2 separate regions of the Homo sapiens genome follow, and region 1 is linked to region 2. Evidence: fine-mapped expression QTL. A gene starts in region 2. The other region holds a variant in brackets. All regions are shown on one strand. Distances are between the middles of the regions. Region 1 overlaps NEK11 (NIMA related kinase 11). Region 2 holds the start of NUDT16 (nudix hydrolase 16).

Evidence for each region. PIP is the estimated chance that this variant, and not a neighbour inherited with it, causes the effect.
Region 1: its variant is fine-mapped to the expression of NUDT16 in blood mononuclear cells (TOPMed, PIP 0.99). The same link has a PIP of 0.9 or more in T cells.

Annotation. Positions count from the first base shown.
Region 1 is chr3:131,223,803-131,229,182 of GRCh38, forward strand. NEK11 (NIMA related kinase 11) reads left to right here. Exons shown (of 18, transcript NM_024800.5): 15 at 4,726-4,886. Among named protein-coding and RNA genes, the nearest start is that of NUDT16-DT, 150 kb to the right of the region's middle. The variant T/A (reference allele first, on the strand shown) is at 3,115.
Region 2 is chr3:131,378,598-131,383,938 of GRCh38, forward strand. It overlaps NUDT16 (nudix hydrolase 16), which reads left to right and starts at 3,177. Exons shown (of 3, transcript NM_152395.3): 1 at 3,177-3,345; 2 at 3,449-3,718; 3 at 4,565-5,341. The coding sequence starts at 3,208. The coding sequence ends at 4,744. It overlaps NUDT16-DT (NUDT16 divergent transcript), which reads right to left and starts at 2,878. Exons shown (of 4, transcript NR_038976.1): 1 at 2,736-2,878. RefSeq lists enhancers at 2,486-2,755, 3,047-3,616, 3,617-4,185 and a silencer at 2,866-3,165.

The DNA of each region.
Region 1 (5,380 bases), 150 kb before region 2:
TGGTGAAATGCCTGCGGGTTCCTGTGGAGTCCACAGAAAGGAAACCACAGAGAGGCGAGATTCCATATTGCCCATTTCAGTTGGGTTCAGTATGGATTTTGAGAAATTATTCTATTTAAAATAAATAAATATTTTAAACTTGAGTATATATTTGCAATTGTCTAATACAGTCATACACTGCATAACAATCTTTTGGTCAATGACAGACTGCATGTACAATGGTGGTCCAGTTAATGAAGCTGAAAAATTCCCAACACCTAGTGCTATCATAGCCATCATAACATTGCAGAGCAACATAGCCACTCACATACTTGTGGTGATGCTGGGTAAATAAACCTACTACACTGCCAGTCATATAAAAGTGTAATGCATATATTTATGTACAGTATAGTGATGACAAATGACTGTTACTGCTTTATGTATTTACTATACTTTTTTTTTTTGAGGTGTGGTCTCACTCTGTTACCCAGTCTGGAGTGCAGTGGCACGATCTCGGCTCACTGCATCCTCCACCTTCCAGGCTCAAGTGATCCTCCCACTTCAGCCTCCCAGTTAGCCGGGACCACAGGTGTGCGCCACCACACCCAGCTAATTTTTTGTATTTTTGGTAAAGATTGGGTTTCTCCATGTTGCCCAGGCTGTTCTCGAACTCCTGACCTCTGGTGATCTGCCTGCCTCGGCCTGCCAAAGTGCTGGGATTATAGGAGTGAGCCACCATGCCTGGCTTGCTATACTTTTTATCATTTTTCTAAAGTGTACTCCTTCTACTTATTAAAAAAAATTAACTGTAAAACAGCCTTGGGCAGGTCCTTCGGGAGGTATTTCAGAAGAAGGCACTGTTATCACAGTAGATGGAGGCTCCGTGTGTGTTACTGCCCCTAGAGACCTTGTAGTGGGACAAGATGTGGAGGTGGAAGACAGTGGTATCAGTGATCCTGACGCTGTGTAGCAGTAGACTAATGTGTATGTTTGTGTCTTCATTTTTAACAAAATAGTTGAAAAAGAAAAAGAAAGAAAAAATGCTTATTGACTATCTCCTAGTTAGGAGAGATATGAAAAAAAGAAAATATTTTCGTACAGCTGTACAATGTGTTTGTGTTTTAAGCTAAGTGTTATTACAATAGAGTCAAGAAGTTTAAAAAATGTACAGTAAGCTGCTTAATTTATTATTGAAGAAGGGAAAACATTTTTTATAAATGTAGTGTAGCCTAAGTGTCCAGTGTTTATAAGTCTGTAGTAGCGTACAGTAATGTTCTAGGCCTTCGCATTCACTCACCACTCACTCACTGACTCACCCAGAGCAACTTCCAGTCCTGCGTGCTCCATTCATGGTAACAGCCCTGTACAGATGTGCCATTTAAAAAATCTTTTATACTGTATTTTTACTGTACATTTTTAATGTTAAGATACACAAGTACTTACCACTGTATTACAATTGTCTACAGTATTCAGTGTAGTAACATGCTGTACAGGGTTGTAGCCTAGGAGCAATAGGCTATACCACATAAACATAGATGTGTAGTAGGTTATACCATCGAGGTTTGTAATAAGTACACTCTATGATGTTCACACAATGATGAAATCACCTGAATGACATATTCCTCAGAACATATCCTCGTTGTTAAGTGATGCATGACTTATTTCTTCCTGGTGTTGGGTATTACAGGAAAAACTACTGAGTGTTTGCCTTATTTGATACATACTTTGCATCCATTATACTATGTAATGTTCACAACAATTCCATGAGATGAATATTATCATCTTTATTTTATAGATGAGAAAACTGAAGTGCAGAAAGCTTAAATAACACAGTGTTACAGAGCTATTGCTAGAGGCTTGATTTAAATGCAGATTTTGTTTTTATGCCAAAGCCAGCATTCTAAAGGAGTGTTTCTGAATGTTGGCCTCTCTAGCTAGGTTGGGGTGTTTTTCAAACTGCAGGTTGAGAGGTCAGTTTAGTGAGTTGCAACCAGCATTAAAAAAATAATTGAACAGGATGAAAAACACCAGAGTGTGTCATATGTAGTTTGGGTAAATAGGTCTTGGTGTATGAAACTTTTGTTTCGACTATAAAGATATTTATAAACATACATATATAAGCACATTTCTGTGCACTGGGCAACAATGTAAATGATATTTCTTACCATGTCGTAGTTTGAAAGCCAAGGGAGTGGACAAGGAGGAATGAAGATAAAGAAAAAATGGGAGAGCAAGAGGGAAAAATATGAATGAGTGAGAGAATGAATAACTGTCAAAGGGACAAAGAGACTCGAGAGGGAGAGGAAGTAGAAAAGAGTGGGGAAAGAGGGAGAATGGACAACTCAGAGAAAGAGACACAGAGATTCAGGGAGAGTTGAGGGTGGGCAAGAGAAGGAAGACATCATATGGTTCTGTCTTTCATTCCACTCAGCAAGCACATGTCCCTACTTGATGGCAGAACTGGAGATCTCTCAGGAGATTTTAGTTTTCATACACTTCTCATGCTGTGATTCTCTTGTCGTTCTCAGTGTAAGTAAAATGAAGATCTTTATTAACATGGCTTCTAGTCATTACAGCAAAAAGACACCTGCACGTTTATGTTTATCACAACACAATTCACAATTGCAAGGATATGGAACCAACATAACTGCCCATCACTGATGAGTGGATAAAGAAAATGTGGCATATATACACCATGCAATACTACTCAGCCATTAAAAAAAGAATGAAATACTGTCTTTTGCAGCAACCTGGATGGAGCTGGAGGCCATTATTCTAAGTGAAGTAACTCAGGAATGGAAAACCAAATACCATATGTTCTCACTTATAAGTGGGAGCTAAGCTATGGGTACACAGAGGCATGCAGAGTGGGATAATGGACTTTGGAGACTCAGAAGGGAGGAGGGTGGGAGGGAGGTAAGGGATAAAAGACTACATATTGGGTACAGTGTATACTACTCGGTGAGGGTGCACTAAAATCTCAGACTTCACCACTACAAAAGTCACCCATGTAACCAAAAACCACTTGTATGCAAAAGGTATTGAAGTTCTATATGCATGTACATATGTGTATAGGTATGTTATATATATATGTGTACATACAGACACGTGCAGGTGTCTTCTTGATATAATGAC[T/A]AGAAGCCACGTTTAATAAAAATAATATATATTATTTCAATATAAATAATAAAAATAATAAAAACTATGGCTTCTCCATAACAGTATTCTATCTCATCTGTTGCTCAGCTGAAAATCAGTGATCTGAACTGATGTGAAAAAAAAAAATACGCTGTGTTGAAATTGCTGAGAGAAGGTATGAGATCCCTAGTACACTGCTTTCTAAGGAACTGGCAAAGGCAATTTTGAATATATGTAATTTTTGTCTTTTGAGCTGACTAATTTTTATTCTACTGTACAGCAGCCTTTTATGTTTTAGTGGGAAACCATAGATAACAAACACATTTTAACATCTTCTATTTCCAGGGAATTCTACATCCATTAAGTATCTTACTTTCAAAGGATTCTGGACTCATTTAATGAAAAGCCCATTTGTACAGACTTGGAAATTGAGTGAACATTTGTATGAAACTTCCCTGCATACCGATGCTTTCATGAGAATTCTATTACTCAATCTCAGCAGCCACTCTACTAGATTACACTTATGTTAATTTTATCACAGAAATTGGAGCTCTGTGAGTTTAAGTCTCTTGCACAAATTTTCATCTAAAAAGTGGAAGAGCTAGATTCTAGCCTTGATTTTCTGACCCCAAATTTCATATTTTTCCCACTAGACCAGAAATAGCAACAATAGATTGAAAAATAATGTGTTACAATTTGGAAGAAAAATTTTAATTTTAAGTCTGAGTATGGTGCAAAGTCTAAAATGCCCATTGTTTTGCTGCAGCTGAGTATTCTAATTTTCTCCTCCCCCAGCCCAAGGGTAGTTGTTTGGGTAGTTCTTTATTTCTAGCCCCCCATTAGTAAATTATATTGTTATGCTTTCTTGTGATCCATTCATGGCCTTTCTTCACTGAAGATTGTTATAAACACCAACTTTATTCTAGTTACTAACAATGTTGCATCAAGTAACTTGGGTAGATGCTTATTGTCATCAGCTTAGGTGGGTATTCTTTTTTAAAATAAGTGCTGAATGTAAGGTTGAGTAAGTAGGACCCACCAGAGTGAACTCCATCTCAAAAGCCATCATTACCTGTTAGAAAAGAATTGTGTTTTTCCCAGCTTGCCAAAATGATGCTGCTATATATCCTATTCATCTTGTTTGGTCCTACCAGTAACATTTAAAAAAAAAGAAATATCTAGGAAAAATGCTGTGGTAGTTTTGCTCCAACTTCCTATGCTAAAAACTTTATGTGTGTTGTGTAATAGGACCCTTCAGCCAGGACATCTTGTCCTACCTTTGCCCCTAAATTTCCTCATTTTTAATAAGGATTCATGCCTCCAAATGTCAAAATGTTAAAGCATATTATTTATTCTTATTTAATGATTTTTTTCTTACCTTCAAACGGTAGTTGCTAATGGAAATGTTCCTCCTTTCCTCTACTGGTTTTATTTTGCTGAGTGTTTATTACATTCAACCAAATACTTCCAGGAAGCTGAGATTCAGCTCTACACTCCATGGAAGCTTTGTCAACGCAAGCAAAATATACATCCCTGTGAAAAGATACAGTATTCTTACCTCATTATAATTTTAATAACTGGTAGTATCTGACTGTTTGTTCATTATTTCAGAGATCCCAGAAGACCCACTTGTGGCTGAAGAGTACTACGCTGATGCATTTGATTCCTATTGTGAAGAGAGTGATGAGGAGGAAGAAGAAATAGCGTTAGAAAGACCAGAGAAAGAAATCAGGAATGAGGGATCCCAGCCTGCTTACAGAACAAACCAACAGGTATGTAATGCTCCCTGTCGGAAGCCATGGAACTGTTCAAGGTACTGATTGGACTCTCCCAGAGAAGAAAGGAAGTCTTATAAGGTGAAGTTGGGGACATGGGGAACAGGGTTATTATAATAGCTACTTGTGGTAAGTCTGGCTTTTCAAGGTCCAGAGGCAGGCAGGGCCCTATGGAATTTGGAGAATCTGATCTGGACCATGTTGATGGGGGAAGAACTGGAGCATGCTGCACTTATTTGGGGGGTTGGGAGATGGCACACACCATATTCCCACTGAGGAGGGCTTCGTATACAGCTATTGAATTAAAAAATGCAAATATCTCTTTAGCAGAGAGAATGGCACTTTTTATATACTTTTCTGTCTGGTAATCATATTTTGGGGTCATATTCACAAATTGAATGCAAATAAAATTTGTAAAGACTGACTTAGTTTTGGGGATCAGAACCAAAGATCCTGGGCTTAGGGGATAATCTGTCTAGCTACTTTTAGCC
Region 2 (5,341 bases):
CCTGGCCCAATGTTAGAATCAGCCATTTCTCCAAAGGGCTTTGATTCCTTTTATGGAAAATGGTATTAGAAACCAAAATGTGGCAGTTGGTGTGTTTGTTGCTACTGGAATATCATTGCTTCTAAGCCCACTCAGCTGACAGAGGAAGGAAATATCTGTGCACACTAACCTTTGTATGTATACATATATGTGTGCATGTATGTATGTGTATATATATAGCCATATCTACATCAAGCTAAAAATGAATTCATACTGATGTTTCAAACTCTAATCTATTACTACATAGATCATTCTAGTCTCTTCCTAATATTTTAAATAGGTATTCCTTTGAATTTCTTATAAATTGTTAGATCAAGATGACAGTTCAATATTTTGGCAGAGATAATCCAAAGGAGGTAGTGTGCTCTTTTATCACAATGTGTATAACAACTGTCTATTCATGATGTTAGCAACCAATGATGATCATTCCCTAGATTCCATTAATTCTTTAAAGTTTAACAAATGTTAAAATTTTGATTGGCTCTGTCCTTCCTCTTTGATTACCTGGAATACTTTGTGAAATAAATTTCCTCTCATTAACTATTTGGTGGCCCTGAGGAAGAGCTCATATAAAAAAGGCAGGATAAATGCTTAGTTCTTTTCATTATTATTTTTAAAATAATAGATTGGTTTTCTAGAATCTTCCCATGCTGACTACAGAGTTATTTTTGGTTCCAGGTACCATTATGAACTTGGAACAGCTCTTTAGGTACATGGCTCAGCCCTCTACCTGCAGCCTTGAGTCCTGGGCATTCTGCCTTAGGATAGTGGAATGGGGGATGGTTGGTGGGGGTGGGGCAGAGGCAGAGAAGGATTTGAAAGGGATGGCAAGGTTGGGGGCTCTAAAGGACTTCCATATTCATCATATTCATCTAGAAAAAGCTCTGGTCTCCAAAATCATGAAAACTCGTACAGCTGTTGCCTTGGTTTTACAGTTTTTCATGTTGCCTTTGAAATCTTTGAAGTCATCTTGAAAAGTCCATCTTTAAAGTCTCAAGTAACCAGGAAAGAAAGAACAGCTTGAAGATCTGGAAAGGGCATGTTTGATCCTAAATCATTAAAGGTAGCCTATCTAGGAGAAAAACCAAGTCGCCTTTGGAATGCTAGTGGAAGGGGGAAGGCCCCGGTTCTCCACCCTGGTTATTAGTTACCTAAAACATATTTTAAAAACCGCATATGTCCCTGTAGGACCCCATACATTCTGATTCAACTGGTCTGTGGTAGGAAAAAGTGGCAGCTTTTAAAAATTTTTAGAAGCTTTTTGCGAGGTGACTCTAATGTTAAAGCAGGGCTATTTCCAAACCCCCTGGAACTCTAGCAGGCCAGTGACAATTGTATCACACCTACAGACTCATCACTTTAATGCAGTTGCTTCATGTTATTAGATAATATCCCTGCCCCACAACGCAGAAGACTAAGCTAGGAAAGATGATGTCATACAGCTCATCCCTCCTTCAAACACTGGAGCGTGATGAGTGCAGCTCAGTTCCAACACTTGGGTCTTTATTTATTATTATTATTTTTTGTAGAGACGGGGTCTCGCTATGTTGCCCAGACTGGTCTCAAATTCATGACCTTGAATGATCCTCTCACCTCGCCTCTCACAGTGCTGGGATTATAGGTATGTGCCCAGCCCTGGCTCCTCAACGTAAGACATAGCACTGTGCCCCAACCCTCAACTCCAAGAATGGCTACATTTACTTTCTGCCTGGCACTGTTCTAAGTGCCTAACATATCTCAACATCCCTAATAGGTTGGTATCATCTCCACTTAACAGATGAGCTGCTGGGATCTGAGAGAGTTAAGTGACTTGTTAAGGTCACAAACCTGTTTCTGGGTGGGTCCGGACTCTTTCCCACCATATGCCGTCACTTACAGGCTGTGAGTTTATGCCCAGCCCCCCTCAAGGAGCTGCCTCCTGCTTTCTATTGCATAATCAATATCGACACCTGGTGTAGGGGCGCTCTGCAGGGTGGGGAAGGCCTGGCCTGGAGTGAGGGATCCTGCATCTCAGCATCAGGCCCTGAGTAGGCCTCTGCCCTTGTGGTAGGGTAACCCACCCTCCTTCATAGCTCAGAGGTCTGAGGGGGTTTGAGGGAAAGACTAGAAAGCCTAGGAGGCTTCTTCTATCTCTCACCCCTCCTCACTCCCAGTCCTGTGCCACAGGATTTCACTCACAGCTCCTTCCACCCCCACCCTTCCCCTGAAAATCTCACTGCCCTGTGACTTCTCTATGTGCCACTCCCTGTGCGTCAGACCCCCACGATCAGCTGCCCACTGCCTATGGCCACCCCAATTCCTTAGAACTACACTTATCACTGCTCACCCTTCTCCTACTCTCCCCCTCTCAGAAAATGACACCACATCCAGGAAACTCGGAACCACCACTAGCCCAGCGCTCCCTCTTCCCCATTCACTCAGTCACCAAGTCCCCTCAATTTCACCACTCAAGATAGTTGTCAGACCATGGCGCCTGTCCATCTCCATTTCCCTAGGATAGGCCTTGGTGTCTGAGGCCAACCCTGCCTCATTTCCTCCTAACCCCCACCCAGGCCTTGTGCTTTGTGTACCACCACACCCAACCAAAGGTAGTTATTACTTCTTTGGCTCCCAGCACTCAACTGAGCGCCCCAGCTCTTCCTCACCTGCCGGGACACTCCAGCTGACTCCAGATTGCGACGCAGGCGTTTACGTACCAGCCTTTCTCCAGGTTCAGGGCGCTGCCACATCTTCAGCCCCGACCCGCCGCAAGTCTCATTTCCTCCTAACCCCAACCCAGGCCTTGTGCTTTGTGTACCACCGAACCCAACCAAAGCTAGTTCCCTGACTTGCTCTTTTGGCTCCCAGGAGCCTTTAGGTACCGGCCTTGCGCCAGGTTTAGGGCGCGGCCACACCTCTAGCCCCGCCCCACCGCAGGCCCAACCCAGAGGCTGCTTTCGGTTACCCTAGGGTTCCTGGGCCCTGGACTTCAACCCGGTCTGCAAGCCCCGCCCTGATTAGCTGCCTCCCGCACCGGTCGCGGCGCCCCGCCCCCAGGCGCCTAGGTTCCTCCCCTTATCCCTGCAGGGATTGGGCCTTGCAGCACCGCCCAGGCTCGGATTGGTCCGAGGTGAGACCCGCCCCTCTGCCCATTGGGCCTTCGGGACAGCAGAGGAGCAGTGTCCGGCCATGGCCGGAGCCCGCAGGCTGGAGCTAGGCGAGGCCCTGGCGCTGGGGTCGGGCTGGCGTCATGCGTGCCACGCTCTCCTCTACGCGCCGGACCCTGGGATGCTCTTCGGCCGCATCCCGCTGCGCTACGCCATACTGGTGAGAAGGGGGCGCGCCCGGCCACTTTCTGCCTGAGCCCCGCACCCTCTCTGGTGGTCTCCTCTGGGGCGCCCCTGCCAATCCCCGCTTCCCCCTCCCGCAGATGCAGATGCGCTTCGATGGACGCCTGGGCTTCCCCGGCGGATTCGTGGACACGCAGGACAGAAGCCTAGAGGACGGGCTGAACCGCGAGCTGCGCGAGGAGCTGGGCGAAGCGGCTGCCGCTTTCCGCGTGGAGCGCACTGACTACCGCAGCTCCCACGTCGGGTCAGGGCCACGCGTTGTGGCCCACTTCTATGCCAAGCGTCTGACGCTCGAGGAGCTGTTGGCTGTGGAGGCCGGCGCAACACGCGCCAAGGACCACGGGCTGGAGGTGGGACCAGCCTGGGACTCTGTCCCTTTCCCAATTTCCTCTTCTCCCAAAGCTTTCTCTCCCCCAAGAAAGCATCCCTGGAGAAAAGTCTTTGCCCCTCTGACCTTGCCCTCTCCCCAGCTTTCTTGGTGGAGTTGGGATCGTGATCATCTATACTCTGAATTAGTACTGCCAACCTGGGCTTTCTGTAAAGGTCTTTCCCACCCTTTACCAGGAGAGATCCTTTCTAGAACACACTCATCCATGTCTCTCTGCTGTTCCCTATTGACAGTGTGATAGATTATCACATTATCTAGGTGTGGCAACCTAGGTTTTATTCTTGGGGTTTGCTTTTCTTGTGTAGGAGATGTGGCCCTGATATTTCAGGCAGGGCTAGTAGATAGATTATGTATGAAGGTGGTTCTCAAAATTTGGCAGGTAGCAGAATCATCGGGGCGTCTTATTAAAATAGCGATTTCTCTCAGCATTCCTGCATTGGTGGTGGGGCGGGGGGAGAGGAAACCTGAGAATTTGTAGTTTTCAAAAGTTCCCAAATAATGCTGATGCAAATAATCTGAGGACCACATTTTGACAACCACTGGTGAAAGGGTATGAATACATCTTTGAGGCAGTAGCCACTAGAGGTTTAGAAGCAGATGTGGGAAAGATTAATTGATAGAGCTAGATAATATGTTTTGGGTCATTTTCCTGCAGAAGGTTGGGCCACTAGGCTTTAGTGAGGTGTGAGCCTTGGGCCTGGTTCTGCTGGAGTATTAAGGGGTGAGGCCTGATCTGCTGGAGAAAGGATGGAGTTAAGGGAATGAGCCACCTGGGGCCCTAGTGTCTCCTGTCTCCTTCCTTTTACAGGTGCTGGGCCTGGTGCGAGTGCCCCTGTATACCCTGCGGGATGGTGTAGGAGGCCTGCCTACCTTCCTGGAGAATTCCTTTATTGGCTCTGCGCGGGAGCAGTTACTTGAAGCTCTCCAGGACTTGGGACTGCTGCAGTCTGGCTCTATTTCAGGCCTTAAGATTCCAGCTCATCACTAGAGGCAGCCCTCCATGGACCCATGAAAACTGAGATGAGGACCTTGGTACTAGGGAGGGAGGGAAGGACGTGGGAATGTTTTCTTATTGGATCTGAGAGATGATACATGATACCAGATGAAAAGAAGGAGAAGTGTGTACCATATGTTTTGAGCAGAGGACCCTCCAACTTATGGCATCAGGGGCAAAAAGTCACAGCTTATCCCAGGCACCCTGGCAGGTTCTCAGAGCCTGCCTCCTCCCTGTTTATATGCGTACAGCCTGGTAACCCCCAGGCATGCAAATATACAATCTGTAACAACACACAGCCTGACACCTTCCCCTGGTCATGTCCAGTTTAACCTTGAAGTGGCATTTGTCACACTACCCTGGTCCCTGATTGCAAGGAGCTTCTGAAGCAAGGGTGAATCCTTCCCACACTCCTCCATGGTTGCCCTCCAGGGTCTAGCCCAGCCTATTTGTTAGGGAGGATAGAGAAACAGAGCACCCCCTGTGCTTTCTGAAAATAGACTTGCTCTTGTCTTGAGTGGTGACCAAAGCAGTTGGCTCTTAAAAGGTGGGAGAGCAGCCCAACCAATCCCCAATCCTTTTCTTCTGAAA